4 linked regions of the Homo sapiens genome follow. Changing the gene in region 1 together with any one later gene gives a genetic interaction. Each region holds a gene or a part of one and is shown in the gene's direction. Other genes may lie near its edges.

The links. A genetic interaction does not mean that the proteins touch.
Region 2: changes in DOT1L (region 1) and BCL2L1 together harm fitness more than expected from each alone (negative genetic interaction), as found in Homo sapiens cells (one large-scale study listed by BioGRID).
Region 3: changes in DOT1L (region 1) and NR5A1 together harm fitness less than expected from each alone (positive genetic interaction), as found in Homo sapiens cells (one large-scale study listed by BioGRID).
Region 4: changes in DOT1L (region 1) and CARM1 together harm fitness more than expected from each alone (negative genetic interaction), as found in Homo sapiens cells (one large-scale study listed by BioGRID).

What each region holds. Positions count from the first base shown.
Region 1 is NC_000019.10:2,221,850-2,226,621, forward strand, and holds part of DOT1L (histone-lysine N-methyltransferase, H3 lysine-79 specific), read left to right. Parts: intron 1-126; coding exon 127-710; intron 711-1,431; coding exon 1,432-1,637; intron 1,638-3,538; coding exon 3,539-3,603; intron 3,604-4,333; coding exon 4,334-4,772. UniProt on the Homo sapiens protein: Histone methyltransferase. Methylates 'Lys-79' of histone H3. Nucleosomes are preferred as substrate compared to free histones. Binds to DNA.
Region 2 is NC_000020.11:31,712,494-31,717,265, reverse strand, and holds part of BCL2L1 (bcl-2-like protein 1), read left to right. Parts: intron 1-421; exon of another isoform or gene 422-645; intron 646-4,772. UniProt on the Homo sapiens protein: Potent inhibitor of cell death. Inhibits activation of caspases. Appears to regulate cell death by blocking the voltage-dependent anion channel (VDAC) by binding to it and preventing the release of the caspase activator, CYC1, from the mitochondrial membrane.
Region 3 is NC_000009.12:124,497,025-124,501,796, reverse strand, and holds part of NR5A1 (steroidogenic factor 1), read left to right. Parts: intron 1-1,081; coding exon 1,082-1,707; intron 1,708-4,772. UniProt on the Homo sapiens protein: Transcriptional activator. Essential for sexual differentiation and formation of the primary steroidogenic tissues. Binds to the Ad4 site found in the promoter region of steroidogenic P450 genes such as CYP11A, CYP11B and CYP21B.
Region 4 is NC_000019.10:10,919,156-10,923,927, forward strand, and holds the end of CARM1 (histone-arginine methyltransferase CARM1), read left to right. Parts: intron 1-439; coding exon 440-525; intron 526-721; coding exon 722-811; intron 812-1,280; coding exon 1,281-1,418; intron 1,419-1,503; coding exon 1,504-1,593; intron 1,594-1,678; coding exon 1,679-1,791; intron 1,792-1,894; coding exon 1,895-1,972; intron 1,973-2,219; coding exon 2,220-2,288; intron 2,289-2,459; coding exon 2,460-2,602; 3' UTR 2,603-3,920; downstream 3,921-4,772. Other genes in the region: protein YIPF2, read right to left, coding at 4,136-4,252, 4,340-4,522, 4,678-4,772. UniProt on the Homo sapiens protein: Methylates (mono- and asymmetric dimethylation) the guanidino nitrogens of arginyl residues in several proteins involved in DNA packaging, transcription regulation, pre-mRNA splicing, and mRNA stability.

The sequences.
Region 1 (4,772 bases):
CAACCCCTTCCCCACTTCCCCGCCTCTCCTGGAGCCCACAGAGCTCCTAGGGGGTGGTGCTCCCACAGCAAGGCTTTCTCTTTGGCCATCCTGTGTCCCCTGAGACCCCCATGTCCTTCCCGGCAGGCTTCTCCTACGCTGGCTCGGTGGCCATCAGCGGGGCCTTGGCGGGCAGCCCGGCCTCTCTCACACCTGGAGCCGAGCCGGCCACCTTGGATGAGTCCTCCAGCTCTGGGAGCCTTTTTGCCACCGTGGGGTCCCGCAGCTCCACGCCACAGCACCCCCTGCTGCTGGCACAGCCCCGGAACTCGCTTCCTGCCTCTCCCGCCCACCAGCTCTCCTCCAGTCCCCGGCTTGGTGGGGCCGCCCAGGGCCCGTTGCCCGAGGCCAGCAAGGGAGACCTGCCCTCCGATTCCGGCTTCTCAGATCCTGAGAGTGAAGCCAAGAGGAGGATTGTGTTCACCATCACCACTGGTGCGGGCAGTGCCAAGCAGTCGCCCTCCAGCAAGCACAGCCCCCTGACCGCCAGCGCCCGTGGGGACTGTGTGCCGAGCCACGGGCAGGACAGTCGCAGGCGCGGCCGGCGGAAGCGAGCATCTGCGGGGACGCCCAGCTTGAGCGCAGGCGTGTCCCCCAAGCGCCGAGCCCTGCCGTCCGTCGCTGGCCTTTTCACACAGCCTTCGGGGTCTCCCCTCAACCTCAACTCCATGGTAAGGATGGGGACCGGCAGGGCTGGGGAGCGCGGCCTGTGAAAGAAAGACCAGAGGGAGACCGGGCGCGGTGGCTCACGCCTGTAATCCCAGCATTTTGGGAGGCCGAGGCGGGTGGATCACAAGATCAGGACATCAAGACCATCCTGGCTAACACGGTGAAACCCCGTCTCTACCAAAAATACAAAAGATTAGCCGGGCGTGGTGGCGGGTGCCTGGGAGGCTGAGGCAGGAGAATGATGTGAACCCGGGAGGCGGGGCTTGCAGTGAACTGAGATCGGCCACTGCCTGGGCCACAGAGCGAGACTCCCTCTCGGGGGGACAAAAAAAAACACAAAAAAAAACAGGTGGAGGCAGGGGGCCATGACTGAGCCCGGCCATCCTCCACCACGTGCGGCCTGGCAGCCTGGGAAGAGGCGGCCGACAGCTGTCTCTGGGGTTCGGAGTGCGATGCGCTGCCTGCAAGCTTCTTCATTCTCGGCTGTGGGGCCTTAGTGGTGGTGGGCACATCAGGAGGGGGCATGGGGGGCTCTGGGATTGCGGGGTGGTGTGTGAGGACCAGGAAGAACCAGGACAGGGGCTGTACTGGCCGCTGGGCAGGGCATCAGTTTCCTCAGGAGACCCTGGGGTGCAGACAGGAGCCTCCTGGGGCGGGGGGGCTCTCCTGCCTTGGGGTCCCGGGTCTGTGGTATGTGCATCCATTGTGTCTGTCTGCCCTCAGGTCAGTAACATCAACCAGCCCCTGGAGATTACAGCCATCTCGTCCCCGGAGACCTCCCTGAAGAGCTCCCCTGTGCCCTACCAGGACCACGACCAGCCCCCCGTGCTCAAGAAGGAGCGGCCTCTGAGCCAGACCAATGGGGCACACTACTCCCCACTCACCTCAGACGAGGAGCCAGGCTCTGAGGACGAGCCCAGCAGTGCTCGGCGAGTCCAGGGGCCCGGAGGGGGGCGGGGCCTGGCAGCAGGGGCAGGAGGTGCCTGCTCACTGTGTGTGTGTGGGTGGGTGGGTGGGGAGGACCGGCAGGCTCTTAGGGGGTGCCCTGGATGGGAGGAAGGCGTCTGTTTTGTGAGGGGCCTCCCCACAGGTCCTGGGCCCCGTTCCGGGCAGGGCCGGCCTCCCGGGCCATTCGGGGTGGGACACGAGCAGGGCCATCGGTTAGAAGAGGCAAGCTGAGGAGGAGCTGAGCGCAGCAGGAGAGAAGCTTCAGCAGTGAGGCGTTGGAGGTCTCATCCACACGTCTTGCCGAGTGTATTACAGTAGCTTTATTAGATAAAATTCACATATCGTATTCTCCATTTAAAGTGTGCAATTCAGAGGTCTTTGGTATATCCACATTACCACTGCCTAAATCCAGAACCTTCCATCATGTCCTGAGAAAATCTCATCATCCCCTTGAAACACTCACTCCCCTTCTCCTCCCAAGAGCCCCTGGCACCCCCCGCCCCCATCCTACTTTCTGTCTCTGAATCTGAGGGCTCTAGGGACCTCCTAGGAGCGGAGTCACACAGGATGTGGCCTTTTGTGTCTGGCATCTCTCACTGAGCGTGACGTCCTCAAGGTGCATCCTCGGTCCCTGTCGTGGCTGGGTGGTGCTCCACCATCCATCCGCCCTCCGTGCTAGGCTTGCTTACCCTGGGCGGTTGTGAGCAGCACTGCTGTGGCCATGGGTGTGCGTGTTTGTGTTTGGGAGCAAGTTTCCCGTTTCCTGGTGCCTGGGCGGAGGTGCTGGGTGGCCCGGCCCCCTGGGCTCTCCAGCAGCCACACCATTCCACCCTGCCACCATGGGTGCACGAGGGTCTGAGGTCCTCAGTCCCCACATCCTCAACACACTGAATTTCTTGTTTTGATTCTAGCCATCCGAGTCGTCGTGAAGTGATATAACATGGTAGGGTTTTTTGCTTTTTTTTTTTTTTTTTTCCTGAGACACAGAGTTTTGGTCTGTGGCCCAGGCTGGAGTGCGGTGGCGCGATCTCGGCTCACTGACCCTCCGCCTCCTGGGTTCAAGTGATTCTCCTGCCTCAGCCTCCTGAGTAGTTGTGTCTACAGGCACACGCTACCACCGTGCCTCGTTCGTTTTTTTGTTTTATAGAGATCGGGTTTTGCCATGTTGCCCAGGCTGGTCTCAAACTCCTGGCCTCAAGCCTTCTGCCTCCCAGTGCCTCCCAGCGTGCGCCATCACAGCCGGCCCTAAGTGTGCTTTTGGTGGTGTTCTGTGTTAGTTCGTTCTGCTCCTTGCCCACGTGTGCGTGCACGTGTTACACGAGAAACATTGTAGCACCTGGATGCTCTGTTTTGCATTGGGATTGCTCAGCTTAGTGGTTTCCAGGATCTTTAGGAATTTGTGTGTCCCTGGTGTGTTCTTGGGACATTGGATCAAAGCGACCCCATGCAGTGTGTGGTTGGGCATGTCTTCACGTGCTGGCCTGCAATGCTGTGGCATTGTTTGCCACCTGAGGCACCGAGGTCTGAGAGGGGCCGGGAGAGGGAGGTAGGAAGAGAGCTCTGTCTGGGATTCTCACACTTCTGTGTGCTGGGAAATTGCTTCTCCCATTCAGCTGCTGTGCCTGATCTCTTGGCTGCTTGTCCCAGCAGAGGCCCTGGAGTCCCTGCCAGGACAGTACCCTTGTGGCACAACAGGGGTGGATCCCAGGGCCCAGCCACCCAGTCCAGGCCTGGCCCAGGGTGGCTGCACGGGTCCCCTGTCTGGGCCGAGTGCTTCTCGTTCACCACCTCCGGAGCTCCCTGGGCTGTTGGCTGTCAGCATTTGTGTCATTCTTAGTATGCAGCTGGGTTTCAAGCATTAATGACCTTTTTTTCTTAACAGAATTGAGAGAAAAATTGCAACAATCTCCTTAGAAAGCAAATCTCCCCCGAAAACCTTGGAAAATGGTGAGTAACAAGTGTTTTGCGGCGTGGCCAGGCCTGTCCGTGTGGCCGTGGTGCCCAGTCAGTGCTGCTGACCCACCTGCTGGCCCGCTGCATCGTGTCCCGCATGGTGCTGGCCCGCTGCGTCGTGTCCTGCGTGGTGCTGGCCTGCTGCGTCGTGTCCTGCGTGGGCGCCGACACTGGGGGCGCTGGGCTTCCAGAACTGCCTCTGGGAGGCCCTCACTGCAGCCCAGGGCCTCCGCGCACACGCCATGCTCTCACAGTGGGTGGCTGACCTGCGGGGATCGTCACCTTGGGTCCCCTGTTTGCTTTGCACCCTGGCCTTCCCCCCGAGTGGTGCCTGCGTCCTCAGTGAGGACCCTGACCTGCTCTGGGGCAGCCCCACCTTCCCTCCCGCAGGCTGCTGACCTCAGCATTTTCCCCAGAGCTCATCCCGCATGGCCTCTGAGACCCGCTTCAGCTGCCTCTGTCCTGTCTTCCGCCCTCCTGTCCCATCCAGTCCCGTCCCCTGCCATCTCATCCTGTGCTGTAGTCCTCCTGTCCCATCCCATCTTGTCCCCTCCCGTCCCCTTCCCTCCTGTCCTCTCCCATCCTGTCCCGCTTGGCATCTTGAGTGTCTGTGACCAGCCCTGCCTGCAGAGTTGCCCGGGCCGTGGCAGCAGCCCCGGTTAGCCTCATGGGTAGCCCGGGCAGGTGCTCTGGGCTCACGGCTTCTGCCTTTCCTCTTTGCCAGGTGGTGGCTTGGCGGGAAGGAAGCCCGCGCCCGCCGGCGAGCCAGTCAATAGCAGCAAGTGGAAGTCCACCTTCTCGCCCATCTCCGACATCGGCCTGGCCAAGTCGGCGGACAGCCCGCTGCAGGCCAGCTCCGCCCTCAGCCAGAACTCCCTGTTCACGTTCCGGCCCGCCCTGGAGGAGCCCTCTGCCGATGCCAAGCTGGCCGCTCACCCCAGGAAAGGCTTTCCCGGCTCCCTGTCGGGGGCTGACGGACTCAGCCCGGGCACCAACCCTGCCAACGGCTGCACCTTCGGCGGGGGCCTGGCCGCGGACCTGAGTTTACACAGCTTCAGTGATGGTGCTTCTCTTCCCCACAAGGGCCCCGAGGCGGCCGGCCTGAGCTCCCCGCTGAGCTTCCCCTCGCAGCGCGGCAAGGAGGGCTCGGACGCCAACCCTTT
Region 2 (4,772 bases), on another chromosome or scaffold:
AGTGGGCTTGAGCGTCCTCCTCTGTGTCCAGTCTCCCTGGTTTTGCCAGTGCCCTCAGCCTTCCATCATGGGGCTTTCTTGAAGCAACTGTGGTTTTGCCTGAGTTTAATGTGGATAGACATAGGGGTAATTCCCAGTGTACTGCTTTTCTACGGAAGTATAATCTCCTACTGCCTTAATTAAGCAGAGGCCCTGTCCCCACCCAACCTCCAACCTAATTCCACAGAGTCCTCCCTAAGGACTCCCTCTTTTTTCTTTGAAGGAGTCACTCTACTCCTGGATCCTCTTCTCTTCTGCCCCTCTATCCGACAGTCTGTCTTCCTTGTTCCCAGTTGGCAGACCTGAGTCAGGCAATCCCACTGGGTCTTTTTGTTTAGCCTGGGGAAGAGAAGACCCAGGAGAATATCACCAGCTTCAGATATCTGAAGGAAGAGGGACTGAGTCTTTTTTTATTGGTGTGGTACCTGGCAAAACTTGGATAAATGAAAAGAAGTTAACAGTTGGTAGAGCTTAAATTATGTGCAGAGAAGACATTTCTAACAGATTTACTCTGTCCTAGATTTAGGAGCTCCTCAGGGTGGAGGCCACATCTTGTCCATGCTTGTTTCCTCAGCACTGAGCAGAGGCCTTGGGCATAGCAGATACCTAATTGAAGAGAAACCCACTAAATTTCTGAAGAAACAGACCCTTGTCAAGCCAGAATAACAATAATGGGAGTGGCTATTTACCTAATAATTCATTCGTTGAGTCAAACAATGTTTATTGAGCTCCTACTGTGTACCATACTGGGAGTATGGCAGTAAACAAAAGTAAGCAAAACTAAGTTTCTGTCCTCATGGAGCTCACATTCCAATGAGGAGTGACAGGCAATAAATATATAATTACATGTTTATATCAGATGATTGTACATGCTATGAAGAAAATAAAGCAGGTTGGGGCATAGGGCATGTCTAGCAAGGGAGGGTGGGGCTGCAGTTTTAAAAGAGTGATCAAAGAAGGTGTAAGGGAGAAAAAAATGGCTTTCCTCTACCCTTCTAGGTCCTTTGGCTGGGCTGAGAATTAAATTGACATAGACAGATTAACTGGAGGAAAAATAATTAATTACATAGTTGTACACAGGAATCCTACAAAATATGAGGCTCAAAGAAGGGTCAGATAATTGAAGCTTATATAGCATCCTGAGCTACAGAAAAGAATATGGGGCTTGGGACTTCTGTTAGGGGCTTGAGTGGCAGCAACCCAAGTTATGGCAGGGTGAGGGAAAGAATTGGTGGTGGCGTGTGTCTGTGGTCCCAGATACTGTTGAGGGGGTGTACTGAGGTGGGAGGATCACTTGAGCCTGGGAGGTGGAGGTTGCAGTGAGCCGAGATCAAGCCACTGCGCTCCAACCTGGGTGACAGAGCAAGACCCTGTCTCAAAAAATAAAAATAAAAAGTCTCTCTGGTAATAAAATTTGTCTGGAGCAGCCCTCTTCCTAATACAGATACCTTTACTAGTGTAGATTTCCTTTTTAGATGTGAATTTCTTTTACAAAAGGACAGCTTTTCAGAGCTACTCTTATGTCTGCAGTTTCTCAGAATAACCAGTTCAAAATATGCCAAAGAAGTATATTTTTGGGGTGGCATATTGTTTTCCTACAGTCATATTTTGGGATGGTATGTCCTGAGTCCCAACAAAAGTATTACCTAAATTTATTTGAGCCAAGCGCTAAATGAGGTAAGGAGGTGGATGATGTAGGTACCCTACAGCAAAGGGTGTTTAAAGCAGAGGGAATGGACTCAGGAGGGAGCATGCTTGACATTTTCAAGGATGAGCAAGAAGGTCAATGTGGCTGGAGAAGAAACAGCAAAGGGGAAAAGGGTAGAAGGTGGGGAGGGAATGGTTGAGGAGGAGGATGGAGAAGTAGGTGGGGGCCAGATCGCATACAGCATTACAGACCATGATGAGGATTTGGCTTTGGTGGAATGGTCTGTATTCCTTTTTTTTTTTTTTTTGAGACAGAGTCTTTCTCTGTCTCCCAGACTGGAGTGCAGTGGCACGATCTCTGCTCACTGCAAGCTGCACCTCCTGGGTTCACGCCATTCTCCTGCCTCAGCCTCCCAAGTAGCTGGGACTGCAGGTGCCCGCCACCACACCCGGCTAATTTTTGGTATTTTTAGTAGACGGGGTTTCACCATGTTAGTCAGGATGGTCTCGATCTCCTGACCTCGTGATCCGCCCGCCTCAGCCTCCTAAAGTGCTGGAATTACAGGCGTGAGCCACCGTGCCAGGCCTGGTCTGTATTCTTAAGGGTGGCAACAGGGAGCCCAGTGAAGAGGCTGGTGCAATTGCCAGGTGAAAAAGAATAGTGGCTTGGACCTAGAGGTGGAGGTGTAGTGAGACGGGGACTGGAGAATAAGACCAGGCTTGCACATGGTATATTGATGGGTCCAGCCATCCTGGAAACCATATTTTTCAACTACTTGGAGGTCCTAGAATCAAAGTTAAGTAAGATAGATGTTCTTTGGGAATAGTTCTCTCCAAATGTGATATTCTGATGAATGGTCCTCTTCCACTCCAACAGTATTTCTGTCTGAGTAAATGAAATTTGTCTGAGTTCAGTTCCCAACTCATCCGTGTCTACCTATGCAAGCTCCTTTTACCTCTCTGAATCTTGGGACAAATAATAATACCTGCCTCACAGGGGGCGATGGTAAAGACACAGTGAGGTATACCTGAGATGCATAAAGACTGGAGCCATGTTGGTATCATTATTCTTATTATCTTTCCACAGAACGCATGTCAGAGACCCATTCACGGAATCTTGAGCATCCACTCTCCTTTTTCTAAATACCATAGTGACCCATCAGCACATCTCAGAGCAGGCCCTTGCAGCATTTCTGTTGTAGTAGGAGCTCCACAGTGTTTGTGTGCAATGGTGGTGTAAGCACTGGTCTTGGAGTTGGAATCCCAGTTCTACTCTCAGTCTCACCTTGGCCAAGTCACTTCACCCCCAGTCCCCAGTTTCCCTTTATGCAAGATGGAGGGTTTGAAGTAGGCAATAAAGGAATGCTGGTTCTCTCTATCCTTAGGCCTTGTGGCGGATTCCACCATTACAGCATATTTCACATTAGTTATATTTTAAAATGGCTCTCTCCTGTTGACAGATATGTCAGCACCTTAACTAAACCCAGTGTCAAGGCAGGCTAGTTTATCACTGAGCCCACAATAGTGCTACCCTATATTTATGTAACACCTTACAGCTTCCAAAGCACTTTCAGATCCACCTTGCCTTTTTGATCCTTATAACCACCCAGAGAGGTGAGCAGGAAGGATGACATCTCCGTTTCAAAGGAGAGAAATCAGGTGAGAAAGATGAATTGACTTGCCCAAGGTTACATCAGGAGGAAGAGGCAGTTTTTGGACTTTCAAATTGGAACTTGACTACTAGCTTGCTGTGTGACCTTGGGCAAGTCTTTTAACTTGTAAATGGCTATAGTAATGCCACCTTTTTCTGAAGATTGGGTGAATTAATTCATTCTTTTAAGGCTTTCATATCATCCTAGGGCTCTTCACTCACATCATCTGGCTTCTCTTTTTTTACATATTGATTTTTGAAATTGTGGTTTTGTATAAAGAAACTGCCTTTGGGACCGTCTGCTATTTGGTTTCATCCCTGATGAGACTCTCGGGCCAAGCTTGAGCCTTACAGTGAACTCTGAGCCACACAGCTTTTTGGGCAGCCTCCAGTGCTCCCCTCGGAACTGGAGGTTTTTCTCCAGCTCTTCAGGAAATGCCATTGCGATGACTTCCATGGACTGCTTCCTGTCCCAGCCCTGCCGGCAAGAGTGTGGAAACTGGAAAGCAATGTCCCTAGAGGTCCGCCCCCCAAAAACTACTTTTTTTGGACGTGTCCCTGCCTTTCCTCTTGTCCATTACTTTCTTTGCTCCCTACCCTTTCCTCCTTCACCTGGCTTCTGCCTCCAGCTGTGATCATCCCTTCAAGATTTAGAAAATGCCTTTCTACTTGGTTCTGCCAGGCCATTACCCCCTACCCTAGGCTAGGCTGTGAGGGAGGTCAGTTAGAATTCCTGGGTTCTCTCCTTGGCTCCATCACGCATTAGCAGTTTCAGTCCTGGACTTCCCCTGGAGATGCATTAAACCTGTTGCTTGCGGTGCCCTGTGTCATCCATTAACCCTGAGTTCCCCTAGGAGATTCCACCCCACCCCTGCATAGGATGGGATTCTTAAGAGATAACTTGAGGTTTGGCACATATAAATCCTGCCTCTTGGAAATTGATGATAAAGGGTGGAGTGAAACAGAGCCTGCCTTCCCCTCCCCCAGTCACCTTTGAGGAGGAAGCTAGAAGGTTGAAAACCTTGTTGGACAATCATCTGAGGAATGGGAGCTGGCCTGGGAGGGGATTGGAACGCACTCAACTATGCCTCAGATCCTTTGTTCCTCTCTTGAAAGGGAAACATTCCCCTCCCTCCTCCCTGGCCACACACACATACACACGTGCCTTTGTTCCCCCGAGTCAGGCAGGGATAGGAACATAGTGTCCCTTCCAAGGAGCCTGACTCGCTTCCCTAGAGACTGGCCTCCTGGTCAGTGGGACTGGGATATTTGCTCAGGAGCCCCCAGCCTCGTGTCCTTTCCATAGAGTCTTCGAGGCTAAAAACTTGCCTACAAACAGCTGCTGAGACTTCTCTGTAATTATTTCATGGGACACCCATGTCCCAGGATAAACAGTCCCTCCCTCTTACTCCAGTTGGTGATTAATATTATTGTT
Region 3 (4,772 bases), on another chromosome or scaffold:
GGTGGACCACATGCCCTGCCACCTGGAGAAAGGACTCCTGGATGGGAGAGGGGACATCCTGTCCTGTCCCCAGAGCCCATGCCCCTAGTGCCAGGTCCCAAGGGGCCAGATAGCTGGCTGTTGTGGGCAGTAGAAACTCCCGTGCAGCCTGCGAGCAGCACAGCGCTGCCCACCCCAGGGGGCAGGAAGATTGGCCAGGCAGCCCCCCAGCCATCATCCCTGCTGAGCACCACCACCCCCTCTCTCCTGCTCTTTCCCCTCGCCCAGATCCCAGGGTGGGGCCCTGTCTGAGCAGGGGCGGGGGGCACACTCCAGCTGCAGAGATGTACCTGTTGGGTCTGGCTGATGACACATTCCTCGCCAGGCGGAGGAGCTTCTAGTCGGCAAGAGAGGTCCCCTCCCCCAGCATAGAGCCTTGGCCAGCTCTAAACTTGGCTTCACATTCGCAGCCAGTGAAGGATACTTGAGTCATTTTGAAGCAGGAGCTCAACAGTCAGGCAGTCAGTCAACAAACAGCTGGACCCTGGGGCCAGCGGTGAACAAGGCTGACCAGGGTCCCCTTCCGGTCACCATCTCCCTGCCAGGCCTTATGCTAGACACCTGAGCCCAGAACTTAGCCCGCAGGAGCACATGGCATGATCCACTCAGCATGATAAGAGTGGGCAAGGACAGGGCACCTGGGGCAAGGACAGTAGAGCCCGTTTGCATGAATCCAGGAGTGCTTCCTGGAAGTAGTGACATTGAGGCTGGGTGTTCAGCAAGCACAAGAGAAAAAAAAAAGTTTGAGTCAGAAGGAAAATGAAAGGCAGGGTGGAGGAGGAAGGAGATGTGTCAAACAGAGGAGTGGAGGTGAGTTCGGTGGAGTGGAAGGAGAGGGGTCTTAGCAGGGATTGCCTGAAAAGCTGAGCAGGGCCTTGAATGCCAGGCAAAGGAGACTGACTTCCCCTGTGGTCAGTGGGAGCCATGAAAGGGTGTTGAGCAGGGGAGAGAGCGGTCAGATTTGTTTGGAAAGGATCTGTGGTGGGGCAGCATGGAAGGGGGCTTAGAGAGGGTGAGTCTGACCCTCTGCCCCTGCCCACAGCCGTGCGCGCTGACCGTATGAGGGGTGGCCGGAACAAGTTTGGGCCGATGTACAAGCGGGACCGGGCCCTGAAACAGCAGAAGAAGGCACAGATTCGGGCCAATGGCTTCAAGCTGGAGACAGGGCCCCCGATGGGGGTGCCCCCGCCGCCCCCTCCCGCACCGGACTACGTGCTGCCTCCCAGCCTGCATGGGCCTGAGCCCAAGGGCCTGGCCGCCGGTCCACCTGCTGGGCCACTGGGCGACTTTGGGGCCCCAGCACTGCCCATGGCCGTGCCCGGTGCCCACGGGCCACTGGCTGGCTACCTCTACCCTGCCTTTCCTGGCCGTGCCATCAAGTCTGAGTACCCGGAGCCTTATGCCAGCCCCCCACAGCCTGGGCTGCCGTACGGCTACCCAGAGCCCTTCTCTGGAGGGCCCAACGTGCCTGAGCTCATCCTGCAGCTGCTGCAGCTGGAGCCGGATGAGGACCAGGTGCGGGCCCGCATCTTGGGCTGCCTGCAGGAGCCCACCAAAAGCCGCCCCGACCAGCCGGCGGCCTTCGGCCTCCTGTGCAGAATGGCCGACCAGACCTTCATCTCCATCGTGGACTGGGCACGCAGGTGCATGGTCTTCAAGGAGCTGGAGGTGAGTCTCTCCTCCCGCCCGGCTGGCCCTGCATCATGGTCCTCCCGGCTGCCCAAGCCTTAGCCCGACTGTCCTTTGGATAGGGCCATCCTTCCCACTGGCTTCAGGCAGTACCTGGGGACCCGGAGGCCACCCTGGGGACATTAAGGAGCATTTCCACTTATCACAGCCTCCTGGGTCCCCGCTCCCTCCCTCTCCTTCTCTCCTCCTTGAGCCTCTGCTCAAGGAGCCACTGCTGCTTTGATCTCTGCCTCTGTCTCTTCCTACTGTGTCTCTCCCTTGCATGTTGTCTCTCTGCTTCTTGGTGTCTCTGCAACCCCTTCAGCCTCTGGGGTTCCCTATTCTGGGGCTCTCTCAGTACTCATTTCCCTCATTCTCTGAGACCCTGGGCTCCCTCAAAGGACTAGCTGAGTCCTTGGGAGACTGTCTTGCCTCCCCAGGCTTCAGCCTAGTGTTGGGAAGGGGGTCCGGCCCATCCTGTCCTCCCATTCAGGGAGGCTGGCAAGGATTGGCAGTGTCACACACAGATGGGGGCTCTTAGTGTTTTAGAGTTTGGGGCATTTGTGGGCCATTCTCCTTCCCAGCTAAGGTGAAAGATCCTCCTGCCTCTGCAAATCTTGCGTATGCTGGATGGTCATGTGCATGTGTGTGGGTGTTCAGGAAGCTAGATAGGTAGGTGGGTGGGGGATTCCAGGGTCTGCCACTGATCTTCCCTGGCGAGGCAGCCTTCCTCTATGGCATGGCCTTCTTTCCCCCTGGGTCGAGGTACCTGATGCTACAGTAATCAGGAAAGCAGCAGGAGAAACTGAGGCTAGACATAGGAAAGAACTTCCCAGTCTTCCCACCTAGTGGCTTGAAGAGCCTGAGGCCCCAGAACTGCCCCTCCAGTGCCCTGGCTCTCTGAGACCTCCCTAGAGGCCCCTCCAGCTGACCAAGGCCTGCCCCTCCCTGGCCTGGGTTCAGGCACTCTTTCACCCAGGGCTATTGGTGTTTAGCTTTCCCAGGCTGACCCCCTGGCTGTTCTGGGGCTGGGTGTAAACAGCAGGGCCCGTTGCCCCCACTGCTGGGGCCACTGCAGCCTTGAGCAGCATTGTCAATGCTGACGCCACTCGGGCCTGGGCTTCCTCCAGGGGCATGAGGCCGGATGGGCTGGGGGCACTGCCTGCCCTGGCTGGTAGGTGGGGGTGGGTGCTCCGAGCCCTAGGGGCATCGCGGGACTGGGGCCTGGGCCATCTGGGAGTCGAGGATTGATGGTGGTGGCTACGGCTTCCACCGTGGAGCGCCTGTCATGGCTGAGGCCTGGGGATGTACCATGTGTCTGTCATGGGGTGGGTTTCTCACCCCAGCCCCTTCTCAACACTGCCCGCCTCTCTGGTCCGACCTAATGGATGAGGCAAAAGGCAGGGTCTTGAATACTCCCACCTGCCTTCTGCTCATGGCTGGAGGCCCTGGTGGGGATGAGGACCCCAAGCATCTTGGGTTGGTTGCTAGCTTCCCTCCAGACTTCCCATGCACCCCCCGTGCAGAGGGGAGGAGGAGCAGGGCATTCCCGGCCTTCCAGAACCCTGGATTGAGGGGCAGGGCACTTCCTCTGGCTGCCTTCCTAGTCTCCCGGGGATTTTCACGCAGGATGGGAAGGGCTTTTGTCCCAGCTTTGCTGAGTGTTTTTTCCTGCTTCTGGCTTCTCCGTGGTCCAAACCTTCCTGCTTCCCCTTCTCAAAGTCTTTGAATTGAGCCCGGGATTATGAGCAGTGGTCACCAGCTTCTCTAAAGGGGCCTTGCAGATAAGTACCAGCCCAGCCCTTAGAGCGCCTCTCGTAAGCCATGTGGAAGTTCTTTTCCACTGGTCCAGTGGACCCTGGGCTGGTGTCTCTTTGCAAAGTCCAGAGGTGAGGAGACAGAAAAGTGGGAGGGGTGTGGGTGACTCCGGCGTCTCTTCTAGCTGATCATTCATTTCCCCACCTCCAGACAGGACACATCTTAGCAGACAGAAGAGGGGGCTCTCTGGCTCTGAGAGTGGAGCAGCCCTTGGGCTGGACACTGGGGACATTAAAATCATCTGGACCCAGGAAGCTGCCAGCCTGGAGGAGAAGTCAGACATGCACTTAGATAATGCCAGTGCGAGGTGCCCAGGGCTCTGAGAGCCACGGAAGGGGCAGAGGGGACCCTGGGGGGAGAGCAAACAGCTCTAACTAAGGAAGTCGGAGAACAGTTCTGTGCCTTTCTAGAAAGTAGAGAAGGTTCAGGGAATTCCAGGCAGTGGGCACAGCAGAGGCGAAGGTCCCGAAATGTGAAGAGGCATCGTGTTCCGGGAGTTCCAATGGGCCTGTGAAGCAGGGCTGGAGAGGTTGGCAGGGCCAGAGCAGAGCCTGGAGCAGGAGTGGGTCCTTGGGCAGTGGGTGATGGATGGCTGCGGGGCTGGCTGGGGCTCCAGGTTCCGGGTCAGGGAGGGGCTCCCCTGACAGAGCTTGGGCTCTGAGCAGAGGCCCACTCAGCCCTCTGATGCTGATGACATCTTGCTGCTCGGGAGGAGTCCTGGAGTCTCAGCTGAGCTCTCAGGGGTGCCAGGGGCCCAGTTGTGTCCGATGCTGAGCTCCAAATGCCCTCTTGGGGTCTTCCTCCCCCATCTTCTTTCCCAGCTGGTATGGGGGTCCCTCCGTCTCCATGTTTCCATCTCACACCAATCCCAGCATGGTAGATTCGATAGTAGCACAGAAGTGAATATCAAAGACTAGAATCAGAGAGGCCTGTTGTCAAGTTCCAGCTCTGTCACTTACATGCTGTATGATTTTGGGCAAGTGACTTCACTCCTCCGGGCCTCAGTTTCCTCGTCTTGAAAATGGGAGGAGTTGAAATAATGTCCACCCCATTGGATTGTGGTAAAGGGTTAGTGAGTAAGGACAGGGGAAGAACTGAGCGCGGGCAGTTTCGGAAGTGGGGTCGCAGCACCCTTCCTCTCTTCCCCTTAGCTACACTGTTTAATCGACGCCTGCAGGCTTATGCAGGCCTTGGCGGGGAGGCAGCAGGGAGAGACACATTGGACCCAAGCTCCTCTGAGCACACGA
Region 4 (4,772 bases), 8.7 Mb from region 1:
TTGGTTAACTTGCTTAATGATTTAGCTTGGAGATCTTTCCTCATCTGTTCATAAAGAGCCTCTTCATTCTTTCTCACGTCCGCATGGTCTTTGATGGGAGAGCCATCACTGGTTTAATTAGATGGTTTCCAGTGTGTCGCTACCACGGACAATCTAATTATACATGTAAGTTTGTTGATGTGTTCATGTATCTGGAGGTTAAACTCCTGTAGTGCCAAATCTTTTATGTGGATAAACACTTGTCATTTGGAGAGCTGTCACCTGATTGCCCTCGGTGGCGTTGTGCCGGTCCCCTCCTCACGGCGTGTCTGGGAAGAGCAAGCTCGTTTTAGCTGCACAGCCTAGAAGCCGTGGGCAGACCTGGGGGAAGGGGCAGGGCTCTCCCCTCCCATGCTGGCCCTGGCGTCAGATGCCACGTCACACCTGTGGTCTCTCCCAGGACACATTTGACATCCGGATCCTGATGGCCAAGTCTGTCAAGTACACGGTGAACTTCTTAGAAGCCAAAGAAGGAGATTTGCACAGGTACTGGCACCCACACTCCATCCTCCCAGGCCTGGCTCAGGCCGAAGGTCAGGGCCACCCCTGGCTCCCGCCGGCATCCTGCCGTCCCAGGGCAGATGGTGGGCGGGGGCCCCAGGCCTCTGCACCTGGCACCCCCTCTTCTCTCTCGGCAGCGCCTGTCTGGCTTCCCCAGCAGCCACTGCCCTTTGCCTTCCAGGATAGAAATCCCATTCAAATTCCACATGCTGCATTCAGGGCTGGTCCACGGCCTGGCTTTCTGGTTTGACGTTGCTTTCATCGGCTCCATGTGAGTGCCGCAGAGCAGCCCATGCTGCCTCCTCCCCACTCCCAGGGCTTCCTGCAGCTGCAACCTGGCTGGGGGGGTGGAACATGGCTCCAGGTTCCACCATCCCTTCCAATGGGAGTGAGAGCCTGTCTCGGAGCAAGAGACTGTTGTGGGTGGGGTGTGTGTGTGTGTGTGTGTATGTGTGTGTGTGTCCTGTGTTCCCAGTGTCTGTCCCTCATGGGTCTGTGTCTGTCTCTTGGCACATGTCAGGGTGAGTAGGGATCTCGTGGTTGCGGGCCCCTCGTGTGTACATGTATGCCTGCTCATGTTTGTGTCTGGGACTGCCTGGGGGCCAGCCTGTCTCTGCTCCAGGGTCCCAGGGGTCCCTGGCAGAGGGGGCAGGTGCTTGGGGAGGACTCAAGGCATACAAGGTGGTGGCTCCAGTGGTGGCGCCGGCCCAGTCAAGTATGTGCCTGTCCCTGCTCCACAGAATGACCGTGTGGCTGTCCACAGCCCCGACAGAGCCCCTGACCCACTGGTACCAGGTGCGGTGCCTGTTCCAGTCACCACTGTTCGCCAAGGCAGGGGACACGCTCTCAGGGACATGTCTGCTTATTGCCAACAAAAGGTGCGACTGCTCCCTGGGGCTGGTGGTGGTGGGCAGGGGTCCATCTGCCCAGCAGCTCATGCCACGGCCTGCACCCTGTCCGCAGACAGAGCTACGACATCAGTATTGTGGCCCAGGTGGACCAGACCGGCTCCAAGTCCAGTAACCTCCTGGATCTGAAAAACCCCTTCTTTAGGTAGGAGGGGCCCCTTGCCTGCACAGGGGGGCGCCCCGGCCCTGCAACCCCCTTGCCCCTGCCCATGGCTCTGTCTCTGCCATAGATACACGGGCACAACGCCCTCACCCCCACCCGGCTCCCACTACACATCTCCCTCGGAAAACATGTGGAACACGGGCAGCACCTACAACCTCAGCAGCGGGATGGCCGTGGCAGGTGAGCAGGGCCCACCCCAATGCCCAGCCAACCCGGGAGGCCGCCCTCGCCGCAGGCCTGGCCCCTCTGCCTCCAGCCCTGACGTCTCCCTCTCTGGACACAGGGATGCCGACCGCCTATGACTTGAGCAGTGTTATTGCCAGTGGCTCCAGCGTGGGCCACAACAACCTGATTCCTTTAGGTGAGTGTCCCCCAGGGCCAGGGGCAGCAGGGAGCCATGCCCAGGACTGCCCAGGGGCCGGGAAGGGCCTGTGGTGACCAGGGTCGGCCTCTGCTTGGTCCTTTCACCTTTTCCTCTTCCTGGGGGCTCTCGGCCGAGGCTCTCCGTCCTCTCTGCCTCGCTCTGCAGCCTGCTGCTGTGCATGGGCTGGGTGGCTGGGGGCGGTGACGCCGTCTCCCTTCCTTCTTTCCTCCCTCTCGCTGCGCAGCCAACACGGGGATTGTCAATCACACCCACTCCCGGATGGGCTCCATAATGAGCACGGGGATTGTCCAAGGTAACGAGGGTGGCGGGGGCAGGGCCCGTGGGGGCCGAGCTAGCGTGTGAGTCGCCATCCTCTGTCCGGCCGCCCGCCTGCCCTCTTGCCTGCCCTTTCTCTCTCTCTGTGACTCTGCCTGGGGGCTGGGCGGGCCAGGGCAGCCCCTCACTGCCATTGCCTGCTCCACAGGGTCCTCCGGCGCCCAGGGCAGTGGTGGTGGCAGCACGAGTGCCCACTATGCAGTCAACAGCCAGTTCACCATGGGCGGCCCCGCCATCTCCATGGCGTCGCCCATGTCCATCCCGACCAACACCATGCACTACGGGAGCTAGGGGCCCGCCCCGCGGACTGACAGCACCAGGAAACCAAATGATGTCCCTGCCCGCCGCCCCCGCCGGGCGGCTTTCCCCCTTGTACTGGAGAAGCTCGAACACCCGGTCACAGCTCTCTTTGCTATGGGAACTGGGACACTTTTTTACACGATGTTGCCGCCGTCCCCACCCTAACCCCCACCTCCCGGCCCTGAGCGTGTGTCGCTGCCATATTTTACACAAAATCATGTTGTGGGAGCCCTCGTCCCCCCTCCTGCCCGCTCTACCCTGACCTGGGCTTGTCATCTGCTGGAACAGGCGCCATGGGGCCTGCCAGCCCTGCCTGCCAGGTCCCTTAGCACCTGTCCCCCTGCCTGTCTCCAGTGGGAAGGTAGCCTGGCCAGGCGGGGCCTCCCCTTCGACGACCAGGCCTCGGTCACAACGGACGTGACATGCTGCTTTTTTTAATTTTATTTTTTTATGAAAAGAACCAGTGTCAATCCGCAGACCCTCTGTGAAGCCAGGCCGGCCGGGCCGAGCCAGCAGCCCCTCTCCCTAGACTCAGAGGCGCCGCGGGGAGGGGTGGCCCCGCCGAGGCTTCAGGGGCCCCCTCCCCACCAAAGGGTTCACCTCACACTTGAATGTACAACCCACCCCACTGTCGGGAAGGCCTCCGTCCTCGGCCCCTGCCTCTTGCTGCTGTCCTGTCCCCGAGCCCCTGCAGGTCCCCCCCCGCCCCCCCACTCAAGAGTTAGAGCAGGTGGCTGCAGGCCTTGGGCCCGGAGGGAAGGCCACTGCCGGCCACTTGGGGCAGACACAGACACCTCAAGGATCTGTCACGGAAGGCGTCCTTTTTCCTTGTAGCTAACGTTAGGCCTGAGTAGCTCCCCTCCATCCTTGTAGACGCTCCAGTCCCTACTACTGTGACGGCATTTCCATCCCTCCCCTGCCCGGGAAGGGACCTTGCAGGGACCTCTCCCTCCAAAAAAAGAAAAAAAGAAAAAGAAAGAAAAAATAAATGAGGAAACGTGTTGCAGCACAGGCAGTTTTCTTCTCCTTCTGCTCCCCTGTTTCTCATACCCCCAAACTCAGATGCTGGAGCTCAGGCCCGCCGTGTGTGCACCCAGGCAGGAGCGGGCGCTGTCCAGGCTGGGCCGCCCCCTTGGCTCTCCCTCCTGTTCCAGGGGAGCCATAGGAGGGAAAGCAGGTGGCCCGGGGGGGATATGGGGGCCCCAGCCCTGTCCCAAAGCTCCCTGCTCGGCTGCCCCTCGCCCGCCTTTATATAAATTCTCTGAATCACCTTTGCATAGAAAATAAAAGTGTTTGCTTTGTAAGAAAAGTCTGGAAAGTAGCAGAATCATCTCAAGGTGTCAAAGGAGCCTTCAGTCATCGTCTGGGGGGCAGGACAGGCAGAGGGGTTGGTCCACTTAGGTGTTGCCTGAAAGAAAGAATTGTCTGGGAGTGGCCCCAGAACCTCTCGCCTTGACTGGGAGTGGGAGGGCAGCCCCCTTAGCCCAGCTGGGAATAGTCCTTACCTGTGGGACCCGGGCCTTCCTAGGAGGGGGCCAGGGACTGCGGCAAGGTAGGGGACAGCGCGATGTTTGAGGGCAGAGATGTGATTTGGGGTGGAGGAGCCACGTTCTCCGGAGGCAGCGACTGGAAGAAGTACAACTGCACAAGACCCCTGGGGTCAGAGGCAGGGCCAGCCCATGCCCCCCTAGCCCCTCGGCCCCACCTGTGGCCACCCCAGACCCGTACCTTACAGCCCATGGCCAGGAGGGCGTGGAGCAGCACGACCACGGACAGCAGCACTGTGGCCACCAGCCTGGTGTCCTCACGGACCACGGGCCAGAGGGTGAATACCAGCCCGGCGGCTGACAGGCCCAGGGCCAGCGCCCCAAAGAGCCACTGCAGCCAAGGCACAGGGATGAGCCACAGGACCTGGGAGCAACACGGCGGCAGGTGACCATGCCAGTCCCCCCAGCCACCACCCACTCTGCACCAGGCCACCCTCACCACCATGGGAATGAGGCGGCAGGTGACCATGCCAGTGTCCCCACACAGCCACCACCCACTCCGCGCCAGGCCACACTCACCACCATGGGGATGAAGACAAAGAGGGAGTAGCCGTAGATGCACACAGTCTCCAGGAAGGTGTAGGGCCCCATGCGCTCCTGGACACCCTTGCGCC